Linked DNA regions of Homo sapiens. The protein of the gene in region 2 interacts with the protein of the main gene of each other region in a biochemical or structural test. Each region holds a gene or a part of one and is shown on either strand. Other genes may lie near its edges. The genes, in order: MEF2D, CABIN1 and GRM1.

Region 1 (3,600 bases), on a different chromosome or scaffold from region 2:
TTCTGGTGTTGGGGCCCCAGCCTCCCAGATCCAATGAGGAACTGAGAAGCTGTATTTGGGGACACGGTGGGACACTGTTTCCTGAAAGGGGGGGGTCAGGTAGAAGGGTTGGAAACTGAGGCCAAGGAAGTAGGAGCTTGCTGGCTTCCTGTCTTAGGACACACAAGATAAGTCTCCAACCTATTTGCAGAGCAATTCCACTGAACTCACCTCCTTTAAGGCTTGCATGAGCCAATGGAGGCCTAGAGGGTTCTTTGCAGACCAGCCCTTGGCCCAATGGTCTGGTTTGGGTTATTATACAGCATAAGACACTGTACTAAGCAATCTGCTTAGAAGAACTAATTTAATCTTCACACTAAATTTCTGAGTTAGCTACTATTATCACCATCTCTAGTCATGGTCACCATGAGGTAGGGGAAAGTTAAATAATATGCCTGTGTTCACAGCTAATGAATGGTGGAGTGAGGATCTGAACCAGGACAGCTTGACGGCAAAGTTGACATTTCTAACCACAATGACATGTTGCCTCTCTCTATATATTGGAGTCTTTGTCCGGTAAATCAGATCCAGCCAGAAATCAGGGTGTGTGTCTGGGCGCGGTGGCTCACGCCTGTAATCCTAGCACTTTGGAAGGCCGAGGCGGGCGGATTGCTTGAGCTCAGGAGTTCGAGACCAGCCTGGGTAACACGGTGAAATCCCATCTCCACTAAAACACAAAAAATTAGCCGGGCGTGGGGGCGTGCGCCTGTCGTCCCAGCTATTCGGGAGGCGGGAGGGGAGGCGAGGCAGGAGAATCGCTTGAACCTGGGAGGCGGAAGTTGCAGTGAGCCAAGATCGCGCCACTGCACTCCAGCCTGGGCGACGAAGAAAGACTCCGTCTCAAAAAAAAAAAAAAAAAAATTCGGGGTGTGTGAAGAACTGAGTGAGTGCCCTTCTGTTCTGCAAGGTTCTTTGAGATCTAAGCCAGATGCCATCATTTCCTTACGCTCTTGGGAGAAAGCAGCAGGACTTGGAAGTAACAGGGATGCTGAAGCCTGACGGGTCAGTTGTCCAGTAGGCATGGCACCCACACTCCTGTTGTAGGGCACGTAAATATTCACCACACCCTGGAGCAACCAGGAATATAAAAATAAAAAATTTTAAAGAGCTACTACTGCTTCTTTAATAAGACATTTCTGGGTGTTTACTGTGCGGCGGGAGGTGGGGAGGAATTAGGGTCCCGCCCCTTTAAATTGCCCCCTCGGCAGTAAGTGCTGTGGGGCCCCGCAAGCACTGGAGATTAGGTCACCCAAGAACTATGAGCTGTCGCTTTAAATTGCTGGGCGTCTGCCGAGCCGGGCCCTGGGACCGGAGGGGGCCTGTCACAGGTAGAGGGAGCAACTGAGCTCCCTAGGTAACACCCCCCAACCCCAAGAATGTCGCCCGTGAGTGGGGCTTTGTCACACACCAAGTGGGGGAGATGGGAGCTTTTCACCACTTCCAGTCTCCCCTTAATTTATCTACTTAGACTCCCACCTCCCAACTCTCCTGGGGCCCGGGGCCGCGAGGAGGTGCCGAGGTGGCGCGTGTTGAGAGTGTGCGTGCAGCTCGCACGGCCTCCCCGGAAAGGACCTCCTGGAGCACGCGGTGGCAGCAGCGCCAGGCGGGCGGGCGGGCGGCCGGCGTGCTCCGAGGGGCACCGTGGGAGCGGACCGATCCCTTTAAAGGCCTCTGGGTCTCGCCTCCCTACTTTGCCTCGCTTCGTCCCTTCCTCCCTCCCTCCCGGCAGGCGGAGGGATCCGCCGCTCCCAGCGCCGCAGCCTAGCTTGGGAGGGCGGTGGGGTGGGGGCCGACCCGGCCTGGCCCGGCCAGCCCTGGGGAAGCGAGGGGCGGGGCCGCGTCCTCGGGACCGCCCCAGCCCCGGCTCCGCCCCGCCACCCCCACAGGTGCCTCCCATTGGCCCCCACGCCTGTCCGTCACCCCTTTCCCCCCACCCCTCAAGCTAGGCTGAGCTGTGCCTACGTCGGCCTCGACTCCCGGGGGCTGGAGGAGTTACCTTTGGAGCCCGAAAGGAGGAAGGAAGCAAAATATCAACAACAGCCGAGGCGGCTCAGGCGCTCGGCCCCGGTTCCCCGCTTGCCTGCCGCCCGCCTGCTGGCCCCCGCGCCCACGACGGGGGCCCAGGCCTCACGGCGCCGCCCAGGGCCCGCGCGGACGCCGGCCTCATTTATTATTCTCCCCGCCCGGAGCTGCGGCTTCCCGGTGTTGAAGATCCCCCGGACCAGGGGCGAGGGCTACCCGCTCTTTGCCGTGACAACACCGTTCCCCCAGCCGGGCTGGTGAGTAGAGAAAAATAATGCGCCTGCCACTTTAAGAGGCCCCCTCCCCCACCCGGTCCAGGGGTTGGGGTGGAGGGTGGTCTAGACCGTCCCCCTGAGGGGTGGGATGGGGCAGCCCCCGGGCCGGGAGGAACTCGCGAAGCGGGCCGTGTTTTCGTGTGGCGTTGGCGGGGATTACCTAGGGGACTGTTTGTGTCAGGGAGTCTGTCGTGGGGGACAAGTGGAGTGGGCTGCAATTCCCTTGGGTGTTGGGAGTACGGGGTGGGGACGGGCGGATTGGGGGCGCGCCCGCCTGTTCGTGTAGGGGGTTTACGACGGCCTCCGAGCGGTCTGGGACGGGGCGCCATCCTCCGAGGGGGTCTCCGGTGACAGTCGGGAGCGACTGACATTTTAACAGCCGGCCCTCCCTCCCTCTCCCTCCTCTCGCCGCCTGTTCCCTCCTCCTTGGCCCGAAATGGTGCAGAAGGGGGCCTGGGAGGGCGGCGGGAGGGTGGAGGCGGGGGGAGCCGCAGCTGTTTGGGAAGCGGGGGAGGGAGGGGGGATGTTGTTCAGATGACACCGGGGTAGTGGGTTGGGGTGTGTGAGTGTGTGTGTCTCCGGGGCCCGTGTTTGCCGGGTGCCTGTGGAGTTGGGACGCGGAGTCGCCACGAGGTGGGCACGCAGGACCCTTCCTTGAGACCTCCTAGCCCCGCTTCCGAGACCCCTGATGTGGTTTGTCAGTAACCCCAACTGGAGAACTCCCTGGCCAGAAGTTTGCAGCTGTTCAACATCTGGGCAAGAGTTCTCTAGTCCTTTCCACCTATGGCAGGCGGAGCTGGGCTGCGAGCGGGGGTTTAGGGAGTTTGGGGGGGCTTTTGGGAGGATGGGCCAAGGAGACCAAAATGCTTTTAGTCCCCCACTCCAATGCCAGCTTCTCTCCTACCAGGTTCGGGTCTTAGGGGGATGGGGAAAGGGGCCCCCTCCCCCTAGTGAATCACGCTGTCCTCTCAGCAGCCTTCCGAGGACTCCTCCTGAAAGGAAGGCACTCTAGAAGCCACCGACCGGGTTATCCCAGGTTTGCCCTTCTGAATGGGAGCCTCCCTCTGCCTCCCATTGCTTGGTGCATTGTTGATGGGTTGGGGGAGGGTATAGCGGGTTGGGGGGGATCCTGTGTCCCTCTTTGCTGTGCCCAACCCCCATTTGAGTTTTCCTCAGAGTCCTGGTTTCTTTGCTTTGGGGTGGAGGTGGCCCTTATCCACTCCTCCTCCTATCCCTTCAGTGGGTCTCCGCAGCAATTCAGGGT
Region 2 (3,818 bases):
AAGCGGCGGTCTGCCCGTGTCCGAAACACCAAGTGCAAAAAAGAAGAGAAAGTAGACTTCCAGGAGCTTCTGATGAAGTTCTTGCCGTCCAGGTACTGTGTATTTTTTCTGATTGTCAGAAACAAACCCACAAAGCTCCAGCATACACCATCAGTAACATTTCTCATTCCATTGCCACCCTCTTCTCTGGTCTCCTCCTCTGTGTTCCCATAACATCTGTGCAGATGTCTGAAGCACAAATCTCACTGGAGTAGGATCTTGGATTTTTCTCGCCTCTTCCCACCTCTGAAATTCCTGAAGTCAGGAGCTGTGACTTGTTCATCTTTTGAGAGCTAGAAGCAACATACTCATGTCCCTGTGTATTTACAAGACATCTATTTGTTGCTGGGAGGCAGAGGGGTGCTGTGCCTTGGGTGCAGATGCCCTGAAAACCCCATGGAAGGGAGCTTCCCTCCTGCTTTCAGGGAGTCCGTGTCTACTTGATTTGCTCCAGGCTCAGCAGGATTCCCTTGCATTCTGAGAAGGTAGAGGAGGAGCTTGTGAAGTATTCCTGGGTTTCACTCATTCTTAGTGCTTCTCAGGAGCCTAGGGGACAAGCAGGAACCAGGCTCCCCAGAGCTGGGAGGGACTTGGTCCCCAGTGCTTCTTACTTAGGTTTTCACCAGTCCTTCTGCCTTTTTTTTTTTGAGACGGAGTCTTGATCTTTCGCCCAGGCCGGAGTGCAGTGGTGCTATCTGGGCTTACTGCAAGCTCCACCTCCCGGGTTCATGCCATTCTCCTGCCTCAGCCTCACGCATAGCTGGGACTACAGGTGCCTGCCACCGCGCCTGGCTAATTTTTTGTATTTTTGGTAGAGACGGGGTTTCACTGTGTTAGCCAGGATGGTCTTGATCTCCTGACCTCGTAATCTGCCCGCCTCAACCTCCCAAAGTGCTGGGATTATAGGCATGAGCCACGGCGCCCGGCCAGTCCTTCTGCTTTTTGTCCTTGCCTGCTCACCTCCTTCAGAGGCTTTAGGATCCTCAATTTCTGAGCCTTCCTGGAGTTTATGGTGCCAGTGGGTTGGTTTCTTAATACTCCCCTTTCTCCTCCCTTAGCTGAGTGGAGAGGCCTCTCTCGGCAGACACCATTCTTCATTTGCACTGGGCCATCTGCCTTCTAACAGTTGGCTGGTACATTTTTTGTCTGCTGGGGCATCCTCGCCTATCTTCTGTCTTTGTGAGTTTATACCTTTTTTACTCCTTCGTTGTTACTGGAATGGAGTTTGGGAGCTAACCATATGTGTTCGATATGCCATCTTTAAACAGGAGTTAAACTATCTAGTTCTTTCCCATGACAGTTTATTTCAGTGGTAACAACATCAAAGTGGTGAAGGAGAAGCCAGAAGCTTTAGGTGGTTTGTAAATTTATTTTACAGCAAGATTCCTAATTTTCTTAATTTGTTGTCTTTCTGAGGTGAAGGTGAAATGCTTAGAAATAATGATTGTTCTCAGTACTTGACGCAGAACCAAAGTGGGGCTGCAGTGCCTTCTGATGAATTTTTCTTAAGGGGTAATACCAGAAGAAAGTTTCTCTTTGGAAGAACTGCAGGATTGTTCTTTGGTTGATGGTGCCAAGAGATTTGAGTGACCCTATATTCCCCTTAGCCCTGCTTTTTACTCCAAGGTCTTGTTCCCTAGTCCCATTTACCTGGATGGTTTCGACTTTCTTTTTAATCTTCATTTTAGTTGTTGGTTTCGTTTGTGGTTTAGTGTCTGCTCCTTTGTTGTTTATTTTTGTTAGAGATGGGGTCTTGCCCTGTTGCCTAGGCTGGAGTACAGTGGCACAATCATAGCTCACTGTGGCCTTGAACTCCTGGACTCAAGGGATCCTCCTGAATACCCAGGACCACAGGTGCACACCACTATGCCCAGCTAATTTTATTTCTTGTTTTTTGTAGAGATGAGGTCTTGCTATATTGCCCAGGCTGATCTTGAACTCCTGGCCTCAAGCCGTCCTTCTGCCTCCACCTCCCAAAATGTTGAGATTACAATCTTGAGCAACCACACTTAACTTAGTTTCTGCTTCTTTGAATGGTCAAGGCAAGAGCAACATGGTAGCTCGCCTGATGGAGTCACCCTGGGAGTGTGTGCAATACGTGAATGAAGACATTCACAAGTGCCCTGAGTGTTTATGCTGCAGGGGTTCTGGGTTGAGGGAACACCACAAGGTTGGCTGAAATGGGTCCTTGGGAGGAGTGCCTGCCAGGAGAGGCATCCCCAGTCCCGAGACTGGGCCCACCCACAGCTTTGTGAGGAGCCACGGAAGGACCAAGTTCAGATGAGCTTGATGTATCCCCCAAACTCCCACCTATCTATCCGCTTTCCACCTTAGTTGTTGGGCTCCCATGAGGTCCTAGAACACACCAGGTGCTCTTCTGGCCTGTGCCTTTGTACCTGTTCTTGTCCTGCATCTTTGTATTGCAAGCCCTTCTCCTCCTCCAGTGTGTCAGCATGAACATTATCCCCTCTCAAAGGCTTTCTCTGACCCTGCTCTCTAAAGCAGGGCCCTTTTGACCCATAGTCTCAAGCACTCTGTTGTGAGGTGGTCCTTATTTGGGTTAGTTTGTGTACCTGCTTATTGGCTGTGTCTCTCTAGAGGGTAAGCTTACTGCAGGCAGGATCTGCCACATTTAGGGCTGCTGTATTTGGTGCCTAGCACAGTGCCTGGCACATAGCTGGTGCTCGGTAATCATCTGTTGATGAGATGAATGACCGAGACAGGATACAGACCAAATGCTGGCTCATGAGGCCCTGGAGAGAGGCAGAGCCTCCTGGAGGCCTGGGTTCTGGACCCCACCACCCACTTATTTTAGCTGCCTTCTTCCTGACTCAGATTTAGTTTCTCTAACAGGAAGAGTTCAGATGCTTGTGTCAGAACGTGTGTTGTGACTTTGTGATTTTGGCATGTTACATGCAGGTTAAGAAAGCTGGACCCTGAGGAGGAAGATGATTCCTTTAATAACTATGAAGTCCAGTCAGAAGCCAAACTGGAAAGCTTCCCAAGCATTGGGCCTCAAAGGCTGTCATTTGACTCAGCCACATTCATGGAATCTGGTAGGAATCGAGCAGTGTGACCATTCACTTTGGGAATTCTTCTTCCCACTATCCTATAACCTGCTTATGTTTTGTTCTGGGAGAATGGTTCTGGGGTGTTTTTTAGTGTGGCCAAGAGTCTGCCTGGATTAGTCTTGGACCTAAGCCCTGTGGTCAGCTTGGAGGTCTTCTGAAATGTCCAGGCTCATACTTGCTATGCTTTCTTATGGCCAAATTCAGAGACTTCGCTTTGCAAATTGAATCTATATAAGCACACCTGTTGAGTGTGTATCAGTGTATAACTGTTGAGTGAGATTAGTGCACATGGCAGCACTTGGAGGTCTGCCCTTTTGATGTCCACCTTAGATACGGAGATTCAGAGAGGCTCAATCATAGCTGCTGAGGGTTGGAGCCAGGCATTGAACCCAGTAGCCTGATCTCAGCACCACAACGTGGTATCATGTCCACCTGGATCAGATGGTAGAGGGAGGGAACAGTCTTTACTGTCCCAAAGTAAATAGGAGACCCTGGCATGGAAGGTACTCTTTATTCAAGTCAGGTTGTTCTTGCTCCCCGGGCAGAAAAGCAGGACGTGCATGAGTTCCTGCTGGAGAACCTAACCAACGGGGGCATCCTGGAGCTGATGATGCGCTACCTGAAAGCCATGGGCCACAAGTTCTTGGTAAGGTGGCCTCCAGGCTTGGCGGAGGTCGTGCTCAGCGTCTACCACAGCTGGAGGAGGCA
Region 3 (3,818 bases), on a different chromosome or scaffold from region 2:
TAACTCATTACACCTGGAAAGTCATAGCCAGTCACTGAAGGGCAATATAACACCTTGGACAAATAAGCCTTCCAAACGCAAACTCAAAATATGAGGGCAAACAAGTATTCAAGTCAAATCTACTGCTGGACACTTTGCATGGAAAGTTTGATACCCTTTCAGCTCCTATTATCCTCAGATATTCTATGGGGTACAATTTTCCTACACTATAATTGTAAGGAAATGAGGATAAAAGGCAATGCCTGGGTGGGCAGTACTGAGAAGGGTAAACTCCGTTCCCCACAGTGCTAGAAATAAACAGGAACAATACTATGATCCCAGGAGCACATCATGCATTGCCCTGACTTTCTCAGTACCCTTCTTTCCCAAATATAATGCCTACCTTCCGTGTGGACTGCAGAGACATAGGTCCAATTGTAACGTTTGACTATGTCAAGCATGGCCCTTGCCTGCAAAGTGTCAGAAGGGACAACCCTCAGGAAGTATTTGTACAAAGTTTTGTCACTCAGGTCGATGCTTGTGGCTGAATAAGCGATCTGGGGGATGTCGAAGAGCTGGAGCAGGTTCTGCACTTGAATGGCTACAGAGCTGGAGCCGGGACCGATCACTCCCGCAATGGGCTTCTTAGTCCTGCCTGGGGGGAGGGACTGGCCGTCAGGCAGACACCGGTTGATCCCATCCTTCTCATCTCGAATGGAAATCAGAGAGTCCCTAATGAACTCAATGCTCTGTTCCAGAGCCACGGAAGAGTGCCAGCAGGAGTCCCGGATCTCACTGCCCAGGGTGATGTTGGGCAGGAGGACCGGGTCCGCGTTGATCTTATCCAACGTGTGGAACATGGCCTCCACCCTCTGGATGCCATACTGCTCCCTGATCTCCCCACACTTCCTCTCGGGCACTTTCTCGGCCGGAGGCTGGTGATGGACTGAGAAGAGGGCTCCAATGATGACATCTCCGTCCATTCTGGCCACCGAGCGCTGAGACGACGCTCCTGCCAGCAACACTTTCCTGCCGGGGCTTCTGGGGAGAAGGGACACCTCCAAAAAGATCGCTGGGAAAAAAAACAAAAGGAGCCCGACCATGGTGGTGAGGACGAGGTCCACAGCCTGCCAGCCGCGTTCCCACGCTGGTCCCGCTGCAGGCTCCCGGCGCGCACCCCCAAGACGCCCAGCGCCGCCTCTCCCGGAGTGGTGCCCCTCGCCAACAATGGTCGTCCAAGGCCTTTGCCTCCTCCACCACCGCCTCCTTCCCCTTCGTCTCCTCCTCTGGGTCCTCCACGACCGCCTCTACAAGCTGGAGGCGTTTGTAAGGGAATTCGAGTCCCCGTTCTTCACCGGTAGTGCATCAAGGTAAATTGATCAAGAGTACAGTGGAAGTCGTGTTGGCAGCGGTGAGCTAGATGCTGCTGACAAAAGACAGAGAAAAATCACAACCTTGTCATCAGAGGACCTGTGTTAAAACTCTGGGGTCTATAATGTTAACAGTTGCCTTGTCCGTTTCATTTCGGCACATCCTGATATCGGCTGCAGGAACAGCTTGGAGCGCAGCTGTGGTCACTGAGGAAGGCGGGGTGTCCTGCCCCCTCTGTCCTCACGGGTCCAGGCGGCGCAGAGCCCCGCCAACTCGCCCGCTCCTCCAACCTTAAGTCGTTTCCTGGTCCCCTAAAACCTATCATGCTTTCTAACTTGGAGGGCGGTGGGGAAGGTGAGCAGAGAGGAGGGGAGGAGCTAGGTCCTTCAACCCAAGAGAACTTTCCGGATTGGAAAAGATCAACTTTTTTTCAGAAGAAAATTTGGAAACTCATTGTAAAGGTGGAAGCGCGACTTTAAAATAAACGTAAACAAAGGATGCACCTTTTACTTTAATTTTGAGGGGTTGAAGAAGCCCTGACATAAAATCAGCTGTAAATATAAATTTGCCAGCTTGAAGAAAATCCACATTAGTTACTAAGGCAACGCCTGGTAAAGTCTCCGTATGGAGGAGTTTGGTATGTTTCCCCCGTAAGAAGTCAGGCTTGCTGTGTATGTTCAAGAAGAAGGGGTGCAGATAAGGTAACTTGTTTCCCGCGGTGGGTGGACGGGTTAGGGGGGGTCCTGCGCTTGCTTTGGGGTTTGCATAGTTGCTAGAAAGGGAACGGAGGGGAGCTTCCGGGTTGCTCTCGCCGCGGCAGCCTGAGCCCTGCCGCCTTCAGGACCCTGGACAGTGCTCGGTCCAGCCAGACATTCCCTGGCAGGGCCTGCAAGGGACGCTTTGACCAGTGAGTTGCAATTCCCTGACCCGCTTTGCTCTTTCAACCTCCCTCCTCTGAGTTCTTTACCCATACACACACACACACACACACACACACACACACACACACACACACACTCCCTTCCACTCGAGTCCCCACCGCCCCTCCGCCCTCATTCTCATCACCTTGCACCGCTTGTGCAGGTATATATCCAAACCCACCCGCTTGGGGACAGAGGCGCCAAATCTCAGCCGCCTGCGGGGCTGAAGTTGGCTCCCTCTCCCGTTCCTCCCCTGCTCCTTTTCTCAAGGTGAGAGTCGACGAAAAGGGGGCTATGGGAGCGGGCGAGGAGAGCACAGGAGGTGAGGCAGAAAAAGGAGAAAGAAAACCCAGGCACCCATTGGTCCCGACTCTTCCTGAGGATACAGGACGAAAAGAAATACATAAGCGAGAATGCGCCTGGGACCCGGAGGAAAATCTGATAGACTGGGACTTTGTCTGCCGTTGTGGGTGGGTTTCACCGGAGGAAGTGTCCGCTCACCTGAGTCTGTTTGGAGGACATGGACTTGAGACATACCTGAGTACCTGAGTCGGGGTAGACAGCGCTATGGTCCCGGGGCCAGAGGACCGTGGCCACGCTCGGCTTGCAGACGCCTCAGCTCTAATCCAGACGGTGCAAGGATGCGATCTGGGCTGTACACTAGTGCCCTCTTTCTTCAGCACTATTTTACCGCAAGGGAAAAAGAGGGGGAGGGAAGAAAAAAAAAAACAGGTCACCCAAGGCTTGTCTATTATCTCATGTATAAAAATCAGTCGTTTGATAGAGGGAGGAGGGGAGACAAACTAGGAGGAAGTGGGGAATATTAATTCCTTTACTATATGAGGGGTCGTATAGAAGCTGCCAGATACGTGAATAGTCAGACAATCTGGCCAAAGAAGTGGAGAACTGCCTAGGCTGCTTTGGGGTAGATATCTTTGTATATATATCTCAGGGACTCAAATATATTTTCTCTTTCTGCGAGTAAAGTCCCTACAGAGGGAAACAGAGTGTAAACACATGTACAGACATCTAAAGAAAGGCTCTATTAGTAGATTGCAAGGGAAATCAGGAAGAGGCTGCATAGGGTGGGAGAAGGGAAAGGACAGGCATGCCCATTATGAATTAAGGTATGCCAAATGAAGAGAGACATATTGTGGCTGCATTTTCAGGTCAAGATGTAACTAAATTGAGAATGAGAGTCAGGTCACATGAAAATACTGGAGTGACAAATACTTATCCAAATTCCTCCCAGGCGGCCATCACCTTCCCTACAGGTCTATGGTGTTGCTTCTGACTGTGTGAAAAGCGGAAGTTAAATCACATTCCTCTGGGAACATGTTGGCTGAGCAGAATGTGGCCCGGCTTTTTCAGGGGAAAAGACAAGTGACAGTGTGTCTTTCTACTCTTGTTCAAAGCTTTCTATTTGTGTCATCTGCAGAGCAGAGAGATCAGCTTACGTTGGTCCCTTATGGGTCAGCTTATAATCGCCTTGCTCAGGTCATTATTATATTATGGAATGGTGCCATGTCAGACTGGAGGGGACAAACC

The links.
Region 1: the proteins of CABIN1 (region 2) and MEF2D form a complex in vitro, tested with the Homo sapiens proteins (2 studies listed by BioGRID).
Region 3: the proteins of CABIN1 (region 2) and GRM1 form a complex in vitro, tested with the Homo sapiens proteins (one study listed by BioGRID).

Annotation. Positions count from the first base shown.
Region 1 is NC_000001.11:156,499,204-156,502,803, reverse strand, and holds the start of MEF2D (myocyte-specific enhancer factor 2D), read left to right. Parts: upstream 1-2,028; 5' UTR 2,029-2,318; intron 2,319-2,923; exon of another isoform or gene 2,924-3,372; intron 3,373-3,600. UniProt on the Homo sapiens protein: Transcriptional activator which binds specifically to the MEF2 element, 5'-YTA[AT](4)TAR-3', found in numerous muscle-specific, growth factor- and stress-induced genes.
Region 2 is NC_000022.11:24,056,269-24,060,086, forward strand, and holds part of CABIN1 (calcineurin-binding protein cabin-1), read left to right. Parts: coding exon 1-92; intron 93-2,958; coding exon 2,959-3,095; intron 3,096-3,655; coding exon 3,656-3,818. UniProt on the Homo sapiens protein: May be required for replication-independent chromatin assembly. May serve as a negative regulator of T-cell receptor (TCR) signaling via inhibition of calcineurin. Inhibition of activated calcineurin is dependent on both PKC and calcium signals.
Region 3 is NC_000006.12:146,026,782-146,030,599, reverse strand, and holds the start of GRM1 (metabotropic glutamate receptor 1 isoform alpha precursor), read right to left. Parts: upstream 1,539-3,818; 5' UTR 1,083-1,538; coding exon 383-1,082; intron 1-382. UniProt on the Homo sapiens protein: G-protein coupled receptor for glutamate. Ligand binding causes a conformation change that triggers signaling via guanine nucleotide-binding proteins (G proteins) and modulates the activity of down-stream effectors.